Regions from separate parts of the Homo sapiens genome. Here region 1 is linked to region 2. The links come from fine-mapping of genetic effects on plasma protein levels. A gene starts in region 2. The other region holds a variant in brackets. All regions are shown on one strand. Distances are between the middles of the regions. Region 1 overlaps FBP1 (fructose-bisphosphatase 1). Region 2 holds the start of FBP1 (fructose-bisphosphatase 1).

The links. PIP is the posterior inclusion probability: the model's chance that the variant is causal. Protein levels are from antibody-based Olink assays in UK Biobank. Linkage for the fine-mapping came from a reference panel and not from the study's own genotypes, which makes the PIPs less certain.
Region 1: its variant is fine-mapped to the plasma level of the FBP1 protein (UK Biobank, PIP above 0.99). The variant lies in the coding sequence of FBP1. If it changes the protein, the assay may bind it differently, which can mimic a change of level.

Annotation. Positions count from the first base shown.
Region 1 is chr9:94,618,502-94,628,730 of GRCh38, reverse strand. It overlaps FBP1 (fructose-bisphosphatase 1), which reads left to right. Exons shown (of 7, transcript NM_000507.4): 2 at 8,240-8,402. Among named protein-coding and RNA genes, the nearest start is that of FBP1, 16 kb to the left of the region's middle. The variant C/T (reference allele first, on the strand shown) is at 8,344.
Region 2 is chr9:94,636,502-94,646,898 of GRCh38, reverse strand. It overlaps FBP1 (fructose-bisphosphatase 1), which reads left to right and starts at 7,381. Exons shown (of 7, transcript NM_000507.4): 1 at 7,381-7,758. The coding sequence starts at 7,589. RefSeq lists a silencer at 7,248-7,307.

The sequences.
Region 1 (10,229 bases), 18 kb after region 2:
TGGTTTGAAAGCCACCTATTGATTCACACATGCCTGGAAGTAGCTGACATTTGTGCAACACTGTGCCCTGATTCGGCTGGGGCTCTGGGGTTCTATGCAGCCCGTTTGGCCTCCTTGCTGTGAGGTGCGGGGCATTTAAATTCTGTTGCCAACAGTAGCGGCCAGTGGTGCTCTGGCCTCAGCAGGTGCCCTGTTCTCTTGTTTGCTGCCTGCTACTTCTCAAGGAAGGCCTCAAGCCACTTTGCTCCTTATGCTCTGACATTTCTCCTCTTAGGCCCAATACAGAAAAGGTGGAGAAAACCTCACAATGTTGCCTTTCCCCTCTATGATAAATTTTTTTTTTTTTTTTGAGACAGAGTCTCTGTGGCCCGTTCTAGAGTGCAGTGGTGTGACCTTGGCTCACTGCAACCTTTGCCTCCTGGGTTCAAGCAATTCTTGTGCCTCGGCCTTCCAAGTAGCTGGGATTGTAGGCATGTGCCACCACACCTGGCTAATTTTTGTATTTTTAGTAGAGGTGGGCTTTGACCATGTTGGCAGGCTGGTCTCGAACTCCTGTCCTCAAGTGATCCACATGCCTTGGCCTCCCAAAATGTTGGGATCACAGGCATGAGCCACTGTGTCTGGCCACCTCTGTGATAACTTTTATTCAGAAAACATTTCCTTGGCAGATCAAGTCACTGGCTCAATCAAAATTGCCCTTCCTGCCCCTGCATGATCAGCCCCCAACTGCTACTGTTGACTCCTTTTCTGGCAGTGGGGCTGAGGGGCAGAGCAGGGGAGGGAGGTAGGGGAAGGGAGCTAGGCCTGGAGGTTTACATCTGGCTCAGTTCAGCCCATGTCTTGGCCATTTCACCTGTTCCTCTCCTTTAATTGTAAGGCACAGTTGGCCTGGGGAGGGCTTTTTTGGACAGGGTCGTGTGATGGTTTCCCATATCCCTCCAGCCTCATTTGCTGCCTTTTCCCATCCCTAGAGAATGGCAAATTGGGAGCTGATCTAGAAGGGAGCTGGGTGGTGTGTGCAAGGCTCCAGTCGAGTCCCACGGAGGGTAGTTGGTGTCATCACCTCTGGTTCACAGCTGCCTCCTGGAAACGCCTTCCAAGGCAGGATGGTCTTCTGGATCCACTGGGCTCTCCTGGAGTCTTCCTAGAACTTCAGACGGGGGATGGCAGCCGCTGCATTCGCTAGGGCTCAGGGCTGTCTCACCAGGAGCTGAGACCCACACCTGCTATTGACTCTAGGCTGCTGAGCCCGCCCTCTCTAGGTGGTGATTGGAATATAGAGTGAATGCTCTTGTTAATCTATCCTTCAGGGCCATTCAGGAATGATGACTGATCAGCAGGCAGACATTTATAATTTCTTTTCTTTTTCTTTCTGAGGTGGAATTTCACTCTTTTTTGCCCAGGCTGGAGTGCAGTGGTGTGATCTCGGCTCACTGCAACCTCCGCCTCCCGGGTTCAGGTGACTCTCCTATCTCAGCCTCCCTACTAGCTGGGATTACAGGCGCCCGCCACCACGCCCGGCTAATTTTTTTTTTTTTTTTTGAGATGGAGTTTCACTCTTGTTGCCCAGGCTGGAGTGCAATTGCGTGATCTCAGCTTACTGCAACCTCTGCCTCCCGGGTTCAAGCGATTCTCCTGCCTCAGCCTCCTGAGTAGCTGGGATTACAGGCACATGCCACCATACCCAGCTAAGTTTGTATTTTTAGTAGAGACAGGGTTTCTCCATGTTGGTCAGGCTGGTCTTGAACTCCCAGCCTCAGGTGATCCACCTGCCTCAGCCTCCCAAAGTGTTGGGATTACAGGTGTGAGCCACTGCGACTGGCCAATTTTTGTATTTTTAGTAGAGATGGGATTTCACCATGTTGGCCAGGCTGGTCTCGAAATCCTGAACCTCAGGTAATCCGCCTGCCTTAGCTTCCCAAAGTGCTGAGATTACAGGTGTGAGCCACTGTGCCTGGCCAGACATTTAGTATTTCTAAGGGGGCTTCTGAAAACTTATGGAGAAAATAAACTGCATGTGATCTTCAGCTAATTAAGTCCTTGAGCTTGTTTCTGAGGAATTTTTCCTCTCTCAGAATCACGGAAGCCTTGCCTGCTTGCCACTTTTCATTGACCTGTGTAAATGTGTTACTCGGGGAAATCTCAAGCCCTTCTTAGGGTCCCCGAGGTGTGACGGGGGAGGCTTGATGGAGCCTGCGTCTGGTCCTGACTGCTCATCATGGCTGTGCAGCCCTGACAGGACTAAGCCAGGGTGGTGGGACCAGCACGGTGTGGCCAGCTTAACTCACTGCGGCTCAGAGGAGACCTGGAGACATGAGGGACACCTGGACATTGTTGCTATCAACATGGCAGCATAGTTGGCTGGCAGCCGGGGGAATTTATTCTCTTGACCCACTGTTTCTACCTTAGGATCCTTTTCCTGTGCTTTTCTGGAAGCTTTTCCTAACGCCAGGATTAACCAGGAGAAGCCTTCCCTCAAGATATCTTAGCAAAGTTATAAAGTACGTGAACATTGAGTTGGAGCAGCCCAGAGTAATCTATCTTCATGTGTTCTCTTACACTTCAAAGACAACTGGAGGATAGCTGGAGAAGGGTCCTTCCTGCTAGAAGAGGGGAAGGACGCTTACTGGGGGTAAAGAGAAGAGGCGTTCCCAAGAAAGGGGCAGGAACCAGCTTAACGCATCTGTCACCACCCAGCGGGGTCATGGAAACGCGAAGCAGGTGGAGCCCATTTCCTGCCGTGGTTTGGTGGACGCAGGCAGCCCCATCCATGCAGGTGCTAAAGGCCCTGTGTGGCTTGGTGGATGCAGGCAGCCCTGTCCATGGAGGTGCTGAGGGTCCTGCGTGATTTGGTGGATGCGGGCGGCCCTGTCCTTGCAGGTGGTGAGGGTCCTGCGTGGTTTGGTGGACGCGGGCAGCTCCGTCATTCTTTCTTTTTGACGGAGTCTCGCTCTGTCGCCCAGGCTGGAGCGCAGGGGCGCCATCTGGGCTCACTGCAAGCTCCACTTCCCGGGTTCACGCCTTTCTCCTGCCTCAGCCTCCCGAGTAGCTGGGACCACAGGCGCCTGCCACCGTCCCCGGCTAATTTTTTGTATTTTTAGTAGAGACGGGGTTTCACTGTGTTAGCCAGGATGGTCTCGATCTCCTGACCTCGTGATCCGCTCGCCTCGGCCTCCCAAAGTGCTGGGATTACAGGCGTGAGCCACTGTGCCCGGCCCCAGCCCTGTCAGTTCTGTGGCGAGGGCCTGCATGGCTTGGTGGATGCGGGCAGCCCCGTCAGTTCTGTGGTGAGAGCCCCGCATGGCTTGGTGGATGCGGGCCGCCCTGTCCATGCAGGTGCTGAGGACCCTGTGCCATGCGTCCTTGCAGAGTGCTGTGTGGCCCCACAAGCCTACCATCGTGAACGGTGTACCACCCCTTCTGTGGCCCTCAGCTTCTCTGTGTTGGTTCCTCTGTGTGCCAAGGGTAGGAGCCATCTGAGACTCTTGGAATGGCAGTGGGGAGGGCTGGCTGGTGGTCATGATTTGCTAAGTCACCCACCCTGACACTGACTGTAACCTCTCGTAGGTCTGGGCATGATCTGGGGCAACAGAAGTTGCTTCTCACTTTAATCTGGCCAACTGCTGAGTCTGCAAGCTCGGAAAATGCAGTCCACTGCATGAGGAAATAGCCTACTTTCATTTAATCCCACAAAACAAGTCACGGTGCCCCTGTGTTTGGGACACAGTTACAGGATAACTTGTCTGTCTCTGGGTGGTGGGGCTGGCCCAGGAGTACTGCAAATCAGAGCCATCCTTACAAGGACTTTCTCCCTCCGGTCTCCTCTCTCTGAATTTAGATGCTTCCTGGATCCAGGCATCACAGGAAAAAGACCTCAGGCTTTACAAAATTACTTGTATAAATGTGCACATAGTACCCACTCCCTTCCATTTGGAAATATGTGAAAAATGTACTTACTGTTTCCTTTGGCTAAATTGCTAACAAACAGCTCTTCTCTGGAGTCATTACTAGCTGACTTATTTGGGCTTCTTTAGGGCTTTTTCATTTCCTCCCATTCTTTCTTTTTTTTATTTTTTTGAGACAGCGTTTCGCTCTTGTTGCCCAGGCTGGAGTGCAATGGTGCGATCTCGGCTCACTGCAACCTCCGCCTCCTGGGTTCAAGGGATTCTCCTGCCTCAGCTTCCCAAGTAGCTGGGATTACAGACATGTGCCACCACGCCCAGCTAATTTTTATGTATTTAGTAGAGATAGGACTTCACCATATTGGTCAGGCTGGTCTCAATTTTCTGACCTCAGGGGATCCACCCGCCTTGGCCTCCCAAAGTGCTGGGATTACAGGCGTGAGCCACCGTGCCTGGCCCATTTCCTCCTGTTCTTTTTTTTTTTTTTTTTTGAGATGGAGTCTCGCTTTGTCGCCCAGGCTGGAGTGCAGTGACGCAATCTCGGCTCACTGCAAGCTCCGCCTCCCGGGTTCACGCCATTCTTCTGCCTCAGCCTCCTGAGTAGCTGGGACTACAGGTGCCCGCCACCATGCCCGGCTAATTTTTTGTGTTTTTAGTAGAGAGAGGGCTTCACCATGTTGATCAGGCTGGTCTCGATCTCCTGACCTCAGGTGGATCCACCCACCTCGGCCTCCCAAAGTGCTGGGATTACAGGCATGAGCCACCGTGCCCGGCCTATTTCCTCCCATTCTTACGAAAAACATTCAAAGTACCATTCAGCTTGAATGCCCCCCTAGAGATCTTCCTGACCATCTAAATTAACCATCTAGCCTCTCATCTCCCTCTCCTGTCACCTTGTTTTTGTTTTATGTCAGCGAGCATCTGTCACTATCTGACATATCTTTTTCATTCCAAAACACTTATTTATTTCTTGTTTGTGCTCACCCCAGTAGAATATACGCTCCACAAGGGCGGGATCTGATCTACCGTGTTCGGCACTGTAACCCCAGCATCTAGAACGGTTCCCCGTGCACAGCAGGTCCCTGGTGAATATTTGTAGAATAAATGAGCACTCAGATAGCTGTCTAGGAAGATTTTGAGTAAAAGAGACCACATGGCCTGAGTGTTCCTGAGGGAAGTGCCTGAGCAGATGGGACTTGGGCCAAAAGGTAATATAGGACTTTCCTTCTGCACCTGCCTCAGTGCCTCATCCGTGTCCAGTGCCTTCGGCCCCTCTGCCCAGCCCTCCCGGCCCCCCGAGCTGTCCCTGTCAGGCTGCACCTATTAGTGCTAGGCCTTTTGTGTATGTCATCTCATGCAATCCTCTGACAGCCGCGTGGGGGCAGACTTCACTTCCCTCTTTGGACACATGTGAAAGGGAGGGAGGCTCAGAAAGAGCAGGGGAGCCTGGGAGCTGAGGCCTGGACCTGGTCTCTGCCTTGAAGCCCTTCTTCTGGTCCATCGGTGCTATTTGCCCTCCGGAATCAGAAGTGAGTTTGACAGTGGGCTGGGCACGGTGGCTCATGCCTGTAATCCCAGCACTTTGGGAGGCTGAGGTGGGTGGATCACTTGAGGTCAGGAGTTCGAGACCAGCCTGGCCAACATGGTGAAACCCTGTCTGTACTAAAAATACAAAAATTAGCTGGATGTGGTGGCATACGGCTATAGTCCCAGCTACTCAGGAGGGTGAGGCACGAGAATCGCTTGAACCTGGGAGGCGGAGGTTGCAGTGAGCCGAGATCACGCAACTGCACACCAGCCTGGACAACAGAGTGACACTGTCTCCAAAAATAAAAATAAAAATAAAAATAAAAATAATCATAAAGTGACTTTGACAGTGCAACTCTCAGGCTGGAAAGGAGAGAGCACTGCTGCTAGTGGGGTCACTGAGGGAGCTGCATTTGAGCTGGTGGGCCCTGCCAAGTCCCTCTGGCCTCCCAGATTTTGGCTGCCTTCTTCCTGCACAAGCCCCAGCCTCACAATTGGGGTCAGAAAAAGATCATGTGGAAATAGGATCGAAAGCCCAGGGACATGGGGTGGAGCTCAAAGCTCGATAGACATCTTGGTCTTTTACTCATGAAATAGGAGTGATGGGTGAAAAGAGAAGCAGCAGGAGGAGGGCTGGTGGGATGAGATGTGCTTTGCAGGCTGGAAAGGGAATGATGCCAAGAGTGGCTGAAAGACGCTGACAGGCGGGCCCGAGAAGACAGCCGGAGCTAGCTCCTGAGATAGTCAGGCCGGACCAGGCATGTGGGTTTGGATGGTTTCTAGGAGGGGCTCAGTTTTGCCCAGCCAGTCACAGCGAGTTATGTTTTGGGCAAATGCACTTGCAGGAGCTGAAGCAGTCACGGCCACTGGATCAGGGACCGTCAGTTCCCAGGCGAGCGCACATCGCCATCATGGCCAAGGGCGCGGGTGTGCCCTTACCACCCACTTTCAGAGGCTTGCTGGTGTCTTCAAAGACCCATCTTTTCCCCTTCCCACATCAAGGCTCTCGCCTTGCTCTGTGCATCCTTCCTGTGAGACGTCTCCCTCCTTTCTGTGTTCAGGGCAACCCCAGGCTATGACAACCTGCCGCTTCTGTAAGTCTAAGAAGCTAGGCTGCGTTTAGACAAGCCACTGGATTCTGGGAATTCTATAATTACTGACTTGCAGGTTGCTTAAAAATAGTGAAAACTCCAGGATCCCTGCAACTTCCATGCCCTAGGACTCCTGCCAGGGGCCCAGGGTGTCACCAAGAGAGCCCTGGCCTGGGAGTCATAGGCAGGGTCTCGCCTCCACCCTCTGCCTGGGAGTCATAGGCAGCGTCTCACTTCTACCCTCTGCCTGTGTGGAGAAGTCCACAGGAGTCTTGGGTCTGAGTTTTCTCCTCTATGAAATGAGGCAGAGGGGCCGGTTGATGCTTTGTTTCTTTTAGGGTCTTTTTAGTTATAAAGCCATAAACCCCTTGGCTTGGCTCGCAACTCAGGCTACCCCCGACCCAGGCTTCCTTGCTTGCTGGGTCTCTCTATTGATTCGTTTAACCCGTGTGTTTGGGGGCCAACACTGGTTCTTTCTGGGCAAAACCAAAAACACCCGCAAACTTTTTATGTAAAAAGCACTGAGACACATACTGCAATAAACAGATATCTACTATATCTGTAGTATTAAAAATATTTCATGGGGGAGTATGGTTGAGGAAAAAATGTTCTAAAAAGCTCCCTAGGGGAATCATAATGAAAACAAAGTTAAGAAACACTGATTTAACCACAAAAGTGTGCAGGGCACCATGACAGGTTCGAGGTGAAGAGGCAGATGATAGTATCTCCTCCTCTCTAGGGTCTGTCCAGACCTTCCTGCCTTGTTCTCCCAAGCTGATGTCCTCCTTCCTTTCTTCTAAAAATATATATATTTTTAGACGGAATCTTGCTCTGTCGCCCAGGCTGGAGTGCAGTGGTGCGATCTCGGCTCACTGCAAGCTCCACCTCCCGGGTTCACGCCATTCTCCTGCCTCAGCATCCTGAATAGCTGGGACTACAGGCGCCCGCCACCACACCCGGCTAATTTTTTGTATTTTTTTTTTTTTTTTTTTTTTTTGAGACGGAGTCTCGCTCTGTCGCCCAGGCTGGCATGCAGTGGCACGATCTCGGCTCACTGCAAGCTCCGCCTCCTGGGTTCACGCCATTCTCCTGCCTCAGCCTCCCAAGTAGCTGGGACTACAGGCACCCACCACCACACCCGGCTACTTTTTTGTATTTTTTAATAGAGACGGGGTTTCACCATGTTAGCCAGGATGGTCTCGATCCCCTGACCTCATGATCCACCCGCCTCAGCCTCCCAAAGTGCTGGGATTACAGGCGTGAGCCACCACGCCCGGCCCTTTTTTAAAAAAATTATTATTATACTTTAAGTTCTGGGATACACATGCAGAATGCGTAGGTTTGTTACATAGGTATAAACATGCCATGGTGGTTTGCTGCACCCATCAATCTGTCATCTACATTAGGTATTTCTCCTAATGCTCTCCCTCCCCTAGTCCCCAGCTCCCTGAGAGGCCCCAGTGTGTGATGTTCCCCTCCCTGTGTCTATGTGTTCTCATTGTTCAACTCCCATTTATGAGTGAGAACATGTGGTGTTTGGTTTTCTGTTCCTGTATTAGTTTGCTGAGAATGATGGATTCCAGCTTCATCCATGTCCCTGCAAAGGACATGAACTCTTTCTTCTAAATCTTACCGAACACTCACTTTTGGTGGGTTTATGGACTCATCTACATGTTCTGGTGGTCATGGCTTATTTTTTGTGGCTTTTGTTCCCTGTAGCTATGGCATTGCTGGTTCTACCAACGTGACAGGTGATCAAGTTAAGAAGCTGGACGTCCTCTCCAACGACCTGGTTATGAACATGTTAAAGTCATCCTTTGCCA[C/T]GTGTGTTCTCGTGTCAGAAGAAGATAAACACGCCATCATAGTGGAACCGGAGAAAAGGGTGGGTCTGTACTTCCACCATTGAGGGTTTTAATGTAGCCGGTCTTCTTCCCAGCTTCATAATTGACTCCACTTGTTCAGCTGAGCTGGGTTTCTGGGAGTCCCTCTAGATCCCTGCTGTGGTCTTTTCATAGCTTCCACCTCACTGCTGCCATCTCTCGAATCCTCCCTGAGCCACTGTGCAGATGAGTGTTGTGGCTCACGCCGCCTTCTCCCCAGTGGACTCCCACAAACTCATCTCCATTTCTAACTTTTTATTGCCATGTTTAAGGCTCTTCAAACCCTGGCTTCTGTTGGTCACCTCTTGTACTACATCCCTATCCACCAAATTCCTGACCTTCACACTGACCCTCCTGTTGACCTAGACTGCTTGAAACTTCCATCCCTGATGCACGCATTGGAGTCCCTATTGGTCTGTCTCTGCTTCTTTTTTTTTTTTTTTTTTTTTTTTTTTTGAGACAGTGTTTTGCTCTTGTTGCCCAGTCTGGTGTACAGTGGTGTGATCTTGGCTCACTGCAACCTCCGCCTCCTGGGTTCAAGCGATTCTCCTGCCTCAGCCTCCTGAGTAGCTGGGATTACAGGTTCCCGCCACCACACCTGGCTAATTTTTGTATTTTTAGTGGAGATGAGGTTTCACCATGTTGGCCAGGCTGGCCTTGAACTCCTGACCTCAAGTGACCCGCCCACCTTGGCCTCCCAAAGTGCTGGGATTACAGGTGTGAGCCACCACACCTGGCGTTATCTCTGCTTTTTGAGAGCAGAAAATGAATCTTATTTGTCTCTGTGTCCCAGTGTCTAGTGCAATGCCTGGCACATTGGAGGGCCTCAACAACAAATGACTGTTGAAAAAGATTGTTAAATGAAAGAGTATTCCCAGCTTTTATAAAACAACAATTGTAATTAGAAAAAAAAACTTCTGAGATTAGAAGTGCAGTTATATGGGCTTACTATCTTTCCCAGTTTGAGAGGAACTGGGAACATGAAGGAGTAGAATTAGGAAAAAACAATGAGAAGATGAAGAGGCTGCCTGTCCTCACCCTATTAAGAGGGCAGGAGCCACATCTGATGAAGTTGTTTTTCATCATTCCTAAAATAGCCGTACATGCCAGACTTGAAGTTCATGTTTTTCTCAGCTGGGCCTTTCAAGGTCTTTGGCAGCTTTAGGCGTATGGCTTAGATTTGTTGTTTAATATTCTCCATCACTCACGCCGGACTTCTCTTGTCTATCATGGGCCTTCATGATAGGCAGCTTCCTGTGTTCCAGTTTCCAGTTCCTCCTGCATTAGTGAGGGTGGTCTGTGAAGAGCAAGAGGGCAGGGAATCATGTTAATCTGCTACAGACATTTAAAAACGACATTGTAAAGTGGCTAATTTGGAGATGGAAAACTCCCAGTGATGTGCTGGTAAACTGGGTCTCAAAGCAAACAAACAAGTCTCTGATATGTCCACTTGCCTCTGTCAATGGTGTGAATACTCTCCCATCGTTGATTTTAAGCTACCAATGTGATATCACTGAAGGCAGAGTTGGGAAGAGATGTGCACCGTTAGCTCCTGAGAGCCGATACCAGCCAGCTCCTGCACACCACTGAAAATCCCACTCAAAACAGGAATCTGCGGTATTCCCACTACCACTGAAAGTTATCTACTTTGGGAATTACGCTAGAAATTTGTTTTGTTTAGTTTTGTTTTTAGAGACAGGGCCTCATTCTGTCACCCAGACTGGAGTGCACAGTCATGGCTCACTGCAGCCTCGAACTCCTGGCTCAAGTGATACCTCCTGTCTCAGCCTCCTGAGTAGCTGGGACTACAGATGTGCAGCATCATGCCC
Region 2 (10,397 bases):
TTTTTTGTATTTTTAGTAGAGACGGGGTTTCACCGTGTTAGCCAGGATGGTCTTGATCTCCTGACCTGATGATCCTCCCGCCTTGGCCTCCCAAAGTGCTGGGATTACAGGTGTGAGCCACTGTGCCCGGCCTCTCATGCTATTTTATGCTCCCTCAGCTCCAGAATGCTCCACCCTGGCTACCATCCCTCCATATCTGCTGCAGCCACTGTGTATTGGGCGTATCCCAACTTCCATGATTTCAGTGAATCTGTGTAACAGAGCACTAATGTGTGTAATTACTTACACCTTTTATAAATTGGAGGAGGTCTGTGCTATCACTATAACAATTCTTGGCCAGGGAATGGTCACCTCTCTGGACCAGGAAGAGTTCCACACTGGATTTTTGCTGGAACTAGAGGGAAAGGAAGCTGGGCTGACTGAGCACAGTTCTGGGGATACCTGTGGCCATACATGGGGCTTCAAGGGGAGAGAGTGTCTGAGAGTGATGCCACACAGAGGAAAGGAAAGCCGAGAGATGCAGACAGACCCTGCTTCCCCGCAGTTTCTGGCCTTCCTTGCTGATGACGGTGGGTGCTGTGGGATGCCTTGCAGCTCCTCATTAAGGACAAAGAAGGGGCTCCCAGCTCTTGGGACTGCTGCCGGTGGGCGGTGCTCAGCTGTCATCCGTCTTTGGAACTGCCTCTGCTGATGACAGCTAACTCTCCCACGTCACGCCCCTTCCCAGGACAGCCAATAGCCCATGACATGTTGGCCTGGAGGTCTAACTTCCAGGCCTCTTTGCCCCAACTCAGGACAGCTCTGCAGAGTCATCTTAGCTTCAGAGGAGCTCCCCGCAGGGCTGGCTGAGCTCTTTACTACAACTGCATCATGGTTCAGTTGCCCTCTGCCCCATCCTGCTGCTGCAATCATCAGCCTGTTCCTAATATTATCAGCAGGGGGGAGAAAATACAGCTAGTTTCCTAGGAGAGAGGACCCCTGGAACATGAGGTGGAGCAGATGGGTGGAATCGTGGAAATAGAGCATGGGGTTATAAGGAGCCTCAAGGGGCCACCAGGTCCAGAACAGGAAGGGAAGAACTTCAAAATCTTGCCACCTGAGGAGCAGCTGGAGGAGCTGAAAATATTTAACTGGAGAAGTAAAGATGTATGGGGAATATGACAGCGGGCTTCACATATTTGACTGTAAATCAAGTAGAGGTTAGGTCAGACTCCTTCTGCTGGGTCTCCTGGCTTCTGCTCTTGACCACCTACGGTCCATTCTCACACCGTTTAGTAAGTCATGTCGCTCCCCAGCTTAAAACCCTCCCATCTTCTTTTTTTCTTGAGACAGAGTCTCGCTCTGTCACCCAGGCTGGAGTGCAGTGGCGCGATCTCAGCTCACTGCAAGCTCCGCCTCCCGGATTCATGCCATTCTCCTGCCTCAGCTTCCCAAGTAGCTGGGACTACAGGTGCCCGCCACCACGCCAGGCTAATTTTTTTGTATTTTTAGTAGAGACGGGGTTTCACCACGTTAGCCAGGATAGTCTCAATCTCCTGACCTCGTGATCCGCCTGCCTCGGCCTCCCAAAGTGCTGGGATTACAGGCGTGAGCCACTGCACCTGGCCTCCCCTGTCTTCTGGCTGCATGAATAGAACCTGAGCGACTTGCTGTGAGGCCTTTCATAATCTGCCCTCGTCTCTCTTTCCAACTTTATCTCCTGTGGTTCTTCCCTCACTTGCCCTTCAGGCCACACTGGCCTTCTCCCAGCTGATCCTTGAATGCACCAGGGTCTTTGCACCTGCCGTAGCCTTGCTTGTTCTTCTGTATGTTCCTCTATGAGCTCTTCATTTGCCCCATTCCTTTCTGTTGTTCAGTCTCTGATCAAAAGTCATTTCATAAGAAAGGCTTTGAGTTTTTACCTCATCCTGCTTTACAGTCTTCATAGCACTCTGCTCCCTGAAACAGTTTTGTGTCTTTGTTGGTTAAATGATTTTTTTTCTTATCTCCCCCACAAAGAATATAAACCTAAAGTGGACTGAGCTGTGTCTGTCCTGTTCACCACTGCAACCTCAGGGTGTGGTATGGTTTTGGCATACAGCAGGTGTTCAAAAACTATGTGTTGAGTGAAAGAATGAATGAACATGAGCCCAGAAATAGCTCTAGAGTCCAGAGAGCTGCCGTAGGCGGGCTCAGAGCCTTGCCTGTCCCTGGAGGCATGACGTGGAGGGAAACTGCCACTTAGGAAAGAACCAGCAAGTCAGTGGGAATATGGGGTTTGGAATCAGACAGATGAGGGTTTGAGTCTTTGTTCTGTCACTTCCTGCCTGGCTGCAGGCCTTGGACAGGTTATTTGACCTTGTTGGCCGGGCGTGGTGGCTCACATCTGTAATTCCAGCCCTTTGGGAGGCCGAGGCGGGCAGATTACCTGAGGTTGGGAGTTTGAGACCAGCCTGACCAACATGGTGAAATCCCATCTCTACTAAAAATACAAAAATTGGGCCAAGCACAGTGGCTCACGCCTGTAATCTCAGCACTTTGGGAGGCTGAGGTGGGTGGATCACGAGGTCAGGAGATTGAGACCATCCTGGCTAACACAGTGAAACCCCATCTCTACTAAAAATACAAAAAATTAGCTGGGCGAAGTGGCGGGGGCCTGTAGTCCCAGCTACTCAGGAGGCTGAGGCAGGAGAATGGTGTGAACCTGGGAGGCGGAGCTTGCAGTGAGCCGAGATCATGCCACTGCACTCCAGCCTGGACGACAGAGTGAGACTCTATCTCAAAAAAAAAAAAAAGAAAAGAAAAGAAAAGGAAAAGAAAGAAAAGCCTCAGTCCCTTCATCTGTAAAGACAGGGGTTTGATTAGAAGCCACCCCAGAGTGGTTCTGGATTGATTAAAGGCTGCTTCTGAAGCCCTGGGCAAGTGCCACACCCTTAGCAAGTGCTAAATAGATGTTTGCTGTTTAGTTTCCACACCAGGCCCCCGGGGCCACAGGAGCTGGGGGAGGTGTTTAAGGAAGGACCATGCTACTGCAATCCCTCTCACATACACCACTTGGCTTTTGTTTTTCTTTTTGTGTTTTTGTTAGAGACACACTCTCACTCTATTGCCTAGGCTGGAGTGCAGTGCTGTGATCACGGCTCACCGCAGCCTCGACCTCTTGGGCTCAAGTGATCCTCCTCCTTCAGCCTCTCCAGTAGCTGAGACTACAGGCATGCGCCACCACTCCTGGGTAATTTTTAAATTTTTTTAGAGACAGTGTTTTCCTTATGTTGTCCAGGCCGCTTTTAAAATTCCTGGGCTCAAGTGGTCTGTCTGCCTCGGCAACCCAGAGCATTGGGATTACAGGTGTGTGCACTGTGCCTGGCCTGTTTTTCTTTCCTGTGGCACTAACCGCCCCCACAGAGGGGAAAGTAAGCAGTGGAGCCCTGGGTTGAGGGCGGCTGTTGTAGGGGCAGGGACTGTCCACACTGTTACTTCTCCACTGCCCGCCTCCAACATAACCCCATCGTGGGAGCTGGGTGAGGAAATGCATGAGCACTGATTCTTCGCAGGATTTCGAGTGTTACACATGTGGTAATACTGCTCACATCACTTGAATCTGCAATCCCATGTGAAGTTGGAGTATGTGGCAAGAAGCAACTCTGCGAGGGTGGTGGGTGGAGGAGGGAGGGGCCCAACCCACAGGCCAGGAACCCATGTGAGGTGGCCGCCTTCCTCTGTCTCTTGCTAATACCTGGGTGATGGGCTTTATGCATCTTGACCCAGAAAAGAGCGAGTCACAATCGACCAATATGATGGAGGGGATATCACTGCACACCAGGCAAATACAGGCTCAGCTGCCAATTCCCACATCCCTCTAGCCCCTTTTGATGGCCAGGGAACTTTCTTGCTTCTGTTCACATGAAAACAACAGTTGGCCCTACCCATGTAACGAAGCAAACACTTACATACTGTGTACTTACTACATGCTGGGCACTGTTCTTAAACACTACCAGCACTGCCTGTATAATTCTCCCAGCAACCCTATGAGGTGGCTACAATCATTAGCCCCAGTTTACAGATGAGCCAATGGTTGCTTGGTGAGGTTTAGCCAATTGCACAGGCTTGCACAGCCAGTAAGTGGCCAGGCCAGGGTTTGGACCCAAGCCATGCAGCCCCAGAGTCTGTGCACTTCACCACAATGCGACGTGGCCTAGTCCCAAGGGGAATGGCTTGCCTTGTAGGCAATGAGCTGCCCATCATCGTGGGTGACAAGCAGAAGTGACTGAGCTAGACAGGGGTCTCCTCCACGTATTCAGTGTGTCCCCTGTGTGTAGCTCTGAGCTAAGCACTCTGCCAATGCCATCTCATTTCAGCCCGATGACACCACTGCCAGATGGAACCATTATTCCACTATATGGATGAACAAACTGGGTTTACAGAGATTAGGTAACTGGTCCGAGATCTCTGGCTGCTGAGGGCTGGAGCTGGGACTCAAACAAGTTTGCTTAATGCAGATCCCAAGCTCTTCACCTCTTATCAGGGATGGTGTCCAATGAGGGTTGGCTGGACTAGATGACTTTTACGGTCCTAGCCAATCCAAGATCCTGAGGGACTGAGAGTCTGGCAAGTAAAGGGGCACACTCCCCTAGTTACTAGCTCTAGCTCTCCCCTAGTAACTAGTTACTATGCCAAAAATACTAGTCATCACATTTCAGTTCTTTTTTTTTTTTTTGAGATTGAATCTCGCTCTGTTGCCCAGGCTGGAGTGCAGCGGCAGGATCTTGACTCACTGCAACTTCTGTCTCCCGGGTTCAAGCGATTCTCCTGCCTCAGCCTCCTGAGTAGCTGGAATTACAGGTGCACACCACCATGCCCGGCTAATTTTTTATTTTAGTAGAGATGGGTTTCACCATGTTGGCCAGGCTGGTCTTGAACTCCTGACCTCAAGATCTGCCCGCCTCAGCCTCCAGTTTGTTTGTTTTTCTTTTTTTTTTTTTTTTTTGAGATGGAGTTTTGTTCTTGATGCCCAGGCTGGACTGCAATGGTGCCATCTCTGCTCACTGCAATCTCCGCCTCCCAGGTTCAAGCGATTCTCCTGCCTCAGCCTCCTGAGTAGCTGGAATTACAGGCATGCACCACCATGCCCAGCTAATTTTTGTACTTTTAGTAGAGACGGGGTTTCTCCATGTTGGTCAGGCTGGTCTCGAGCTCCCAACCTCAGGTGATCTGCCCGCCTCGGCCTCCCAAAGTGAAGTGCTGGGATTACAGGTGTGAGCCAGTGAGCCGGGCCTATTTGAGTTTTTATGTTTAAGGATGTATTTCTCTTACTATTTTTTTTAACACAGGGTTTTTCCTGAAAAGTTGCCTGAGGAACAAAGAGTTAAATAAGACCCTTAAAGGATCAACTCTCTTTGCCAGGCATCTAAGTCCCCTCTGGGGCTTTGAGGAGACAGTCGCTGTCTTTCCTGGTGGTACCACCACCTTCCTTCATTCAACGCCGCCGCATCTGACAACCCTGGGCACAGGAATCTGCACCCCAGGTCTCCACGGTGAATCCAGCAGTCAATTTTCAGAGCTTGTCCTGCCTGCCCCATCCACACCGCTTGGCACATGGGTCAGCCCGCCTTTACTTACCTTCTTCATCTGGCTTCCCGGATGTCACATCTCTTGGTTTTTGGTTGGTTTTTCCAGTTGGCTTTTCCAATTTATACCTGCAGCATGGATCTCTCCTCTGAACTCCAGATACATAAATCTGTCTATTTGACATTGCCTTGGATGTCTAGAAGGCATTTCAAACTTAGCAGGTCCCACACTTAGCTCCTAATTGTCAGTCCTGCCTCCAGCACACGCCCCTCTCGGTGTTCCCCATCGCAGTCGAGGACAACTGCATTCTTCTAGTTTCTCAGGCCTCAAACCTTAGAATCATCCGAGACTCCTGTCTCTCACATATCTCATCTGTCAACGAATCCCATCAGCTCTACCTTCAAAATATGTCCAGAATCCACCACCTCCACTGCTAACACCTGGCTCACTATCTCCTAGTAACCTGGAGGGCACTGTCTTCAGTCTGATCTTCACACAGTAGCCGCAGTATGAAGACACAGGGTAGACCATGCCTCTCTTCTTCTCCAAACTCTCCAGTGGGTTCCTCCTAGTCAAAGTCAAACCTCACTTGGCCCTCTAGACCTCACCTCTGCATCCTCCCGCTGGCCTTATCTCCTCCACCTCTGACCCTTGCTAGCTCTATTTCAGCTCCACCGGTCTCCTGGCCATTCCCTGAACCTGAAACATGGTCTCCTACCCCAGGGCCTGTGCACTGGCTCTCCCGGTGAGGAAACCGCTCTCCTTCCCATCTCCACCGGCGCGTTGCATCCTTCACCTCTTTGCTCACATATCCCTTTCTCAGAGAAGCTTTTACTGAGGCCTCTGCTCACCCTCTTCTCCCCTCCACATTCCGTGTCTTCCTTTTCTATTTCGTTTCTCTCTATGGTACTTATGGCTTATGTAACAAACTAATCTATTGTTTATATATTTATTTTTACTGTTTCTCTGTGAAAACGTACACTCGAAAAGGGCAGGAGTTTTGTCTGTTTGGATCAGGCTCCACCCCTGGAAGGTAGGACAGTGTTCAGCACAGCAGGTGCTCAATAGGTGTTGTTTCGTGAATCAGCACATCAATTGCAGCATTGTGGCTACCAGGGGGTCAGGATGCGGGCGGTGGAGCCCTCTGGCCTTTGTGTGGTAGCCGAGGACTCTGTGTCAGCGACCGTTTTCCGGGAAACTTCCGGGCGAGACTCACATCTTGGAAATTCAAATACTCAATAGCTCTCGAATTCTAGGAATCTTGAGAAGAGGCCTGGATTAAGGATTCAGACGTGGGCCCTCAGATGGGTGAGAAACGGGGACTCTGTGTCTCCTAGCGGGGACAGAAGGGCCAGGTGACAGGCCAGGCAGAGTGGACGGGGCTTGGGCAGGGGGCGGGGGCAGGCAGCCACACGGGGCAGGAGCTGCAGAGCTAAAGCCAGGCCATGTGGACTGGCTGCGGGTTTCGCTGCCTAGCTGGTGGCATTGAGCAAGTTACTTAACCTTTCTGAACTTCCGTTTTATGATTTTGGAGGAAACAGTCATAGCTTTCTCTCTGGCAGAGTCCGATGGCCCGAGTCCCGCTCCACAGTGCGGGTGGAGGGCACGGAGGGGTGTGTGTGGGGGGCGACAGCCCAGGAAGACTAGGGGGCGGCAGGGCGCGTGGGGGCGGGGGTTGGGAGACCGCAGGGAGGATCCCCGACCTTGTCTGAAGATCCAAGCAGGCGGAGCCGCGGTCTGGTCCGCGGGGTAGGCGGGGCGCAAGAGTGTTCCCGGGGGCGGGGGGCCGACCCGCGTCTAAAGGTTTCCGCGATTCACCCGCCGGCGCCTGGCCTGGCCCAGTTGCACCACGAGCGCTGCGGACACTCGGGGCGGCAGTCGGTCTGTCAGTCCTCCCGCCAGGTCCCGCGGCCCGCACCTGCCGCCCGCACCTGCAGCTCCGCACCTGCGGCCAGTGCCTACTGCCCTCTCTTGCCGCCCGCACCTGCAGCCCCGCACCTGCCGCTTGCACCTGCAGCCCCGCGCTCTACCCGGTTCAAGCATGGCTGACCAGGCGCCCTTCGACACGGACGTCAACACCCTGACCCGCTTCGTCATGGAGGAGGGCAGGAAGGCCCGCGGCACGGGCGAGTTGACCCAGCTGCTCAACTCGCTCTGCACAGCAGTCAAAGCCATCTCTTCGGCGGTGCGCAAGGCGGGCATCGCGCACCTGTGAGTCGGGCCTTGGGCGGTGGGCCCCGTCCTGTCTGTCTGCCTGGGGAGCCTGCCCGGCGGGCTGACGTTGGGCCCTCTGAGCCTCCTGCCGTCAGCCTCTGTCTGTCCGTCTGATGTCTGAGCGCCTCTCTCGCTCTCTGTCTGGTAGCCCCTCTCTCCAGAAGCTGGCTCAGCCTCACTCAAGTCCTCATCTCCTCCCTTGACCTTGGAGGGGCCCACCTGGGGGTCCGTCTCACAGGTGTACACCTGATTCCATCTTGCATTCCTCTTCTCTGCCCTGAGCAGCCTGCCTCGTACCCCTCTCAGCCGGCCAAGTGTGGGCACCTGGCCTGCCCGTCATACCCGCCCTAGCCTCAGACAGGAAAGTGCTAGCTCAGGTGCCTTCCTTCCCCATTTCTTCTTTGTCCTCCTTCACTCTTTCTGCAATTAGGGACCCAAGTCAGGTTTCTAATCCAGTTATCTCTGACCTGAAACAAGACCTGTTAGGAGCGAGTGTCCCCCCCGCCCCCCCCGCAAGCAGGCTGGGAGGTCTCCTGTGTGTCCAGAGCCTTTAGGAGCAGCAGGGCTTGTGTGCAAAGGAGCTCCCGTGGGCTGCCCCTTGCTGGGACAGTTGCCATGCTGTGCCAGAAACAGGAAACACCCAGGGCTTCAAAACCCCTATCGATTTGCAATGATGGTGTGTGCAGCCTCTGCCCAATTAGTGGAAAGCTCAAAAGTGGTTTGTAGAATGGTTCTGAATGCGCTATGGAGTGCATCTCGAACGTCACTGGGCACAGGAATCATTTGGGGATCTTGGTAAGATGTGTGCCCTCCTTCCATAGCTCTGGGACAGGTCCTGAGATTCTGCATTTCTAAGAAGTTCTCCTGTGGTGGGTGCTGCCCATCAGATACTGTTTGTCTACTCATCACATTGTGAGTAGCAAGGGGTCAAGTGGAGTGGAGACTCAAAGGACCCCTTCTTGTGAGGTTTTTTGTAAGTCACACAACATCCTTTCGTTTGTGTTGGTGTGCACAGGTATTTTCTTTTTCTTTTCTTTTTTTTTTTTTTTTTGAGATGGAATTTTGCTCTTGTTGCCCAGGCTGGAGTGCAATGGTGCGATCTTGGCTCACCGCAACCTCTGCCTCCCAGGTTCAAGCGATTCTCCTGCCTCAGTCTCCCGAGTAGCTGGGATTACAGGCATGTGCCACCATGCCCAGCTAATTTTGTAATTTTTTTTAGTAGAAACGGGGTTTCTCCATGTTGGTCAGGCTGGTCTCGAACTCCCGACCTCCGGTGATGCCTTGGCCTCCCAAAGTGCTGGGATTACAGGCATGAGCCGCCGTGCGCAGGTATTTTCTAGCTAACTGATCCACACTTTTAACTGAAGTGTAACTGGGTTTTCAGATTGTCCATACACTTTACTAACATTCCCCGCACTTATGCACACTATAAAAATGACACATGATGGGCTGGGCGCGTAGGCTCTAGCCTGTCATCCCAGCACTTTGGGAGGCCGAAACAGGTGGATTGCCTGAGGTCAGGAGTTCAAGACCAACCTGATCAACATGGTGAAACCCCGTCTCTACCAAAAATTAGCTGGGTGTGGTGGCAGGCGCCTGTAATCCCAGCTACTCGGGAGGCTGAGGAAGGAGAATTGCTTGAACCCAGGAGGCAGAGGTTGCAGTGAGCCGAGATCGCATCATTGCACTCCAGCCTGCGCGACAAGAGCGTGACTTTGTCTTAAAAAAAAAAAAAAAAGACGCATGATGCTCAGAGCTGACCTGAACAAATACAACCCTGCTACTTGGGTTTGGAATGCATTTCTCCATTCTTAAAAACTCTTCTCCGCCCCGCATCCTGCAATCTAGATTCCTTTTCTTACTGGCAGGCTGTCTGGCTTTGGTCCCACAGTATGGACTGGTGGAGGTAATTCATGTAAAGGAGTGGTATGATCACATTTATTTTTGAATATTAAGCAGACATGTTAAGGAAGGTGATGACTCCATTACTGTTGCCTCTGGCCCCTCTTAATAATACATTCCTAAGGATTCTTATTTTAGAAACATACCCAGGTGAAATCTTAAGCTTTAATTTACAGCTAGTATAGGTGGCTCACAGCTTTAACTGCCTTTGAGGACCAGGGATATATTTTAAAAAGAGGGCTTGTCGACTGGGTGTGGTGGCTCACACCTGTAATCCCAGCACTTTGGGAGGCTGAGACGGGTAGATCACTCAAAGTCCAGGTGTTTGAGACCAGCCTGGCCAACATGGTGAAACCCTGTCTCTACTAAAAACACAAAAATTAGCCAGGCATGGTGGCAGGCGCCTGTAATCCCAGCTACTTGGGAGGCTGAGGCAGGAGAATTGCTTGAACCCGGGAGGCGGAGGTTGCAGTGAGCCCAGATCGTGCCACTCTACTCCAGCCTGGCGACCGAGTAAGACTCTGTCTCAAAAAAAGAAAAAAAAGGGCTTGTCATGTCTGATATTGTTTAAAAAATGTGTCAGTACCTTTCACACCCCTAGAGAGACTGAGAAATGTAAGATGTGTTTTGAGGTGTCCCACTGTCTAAGTAACCTTAGACAGTGGGACCTTGGATAGTGAGATTTTGATGGTGGGGCCTGGATGAAGCATGTTAATTTTGGCTACGTAAGGTAT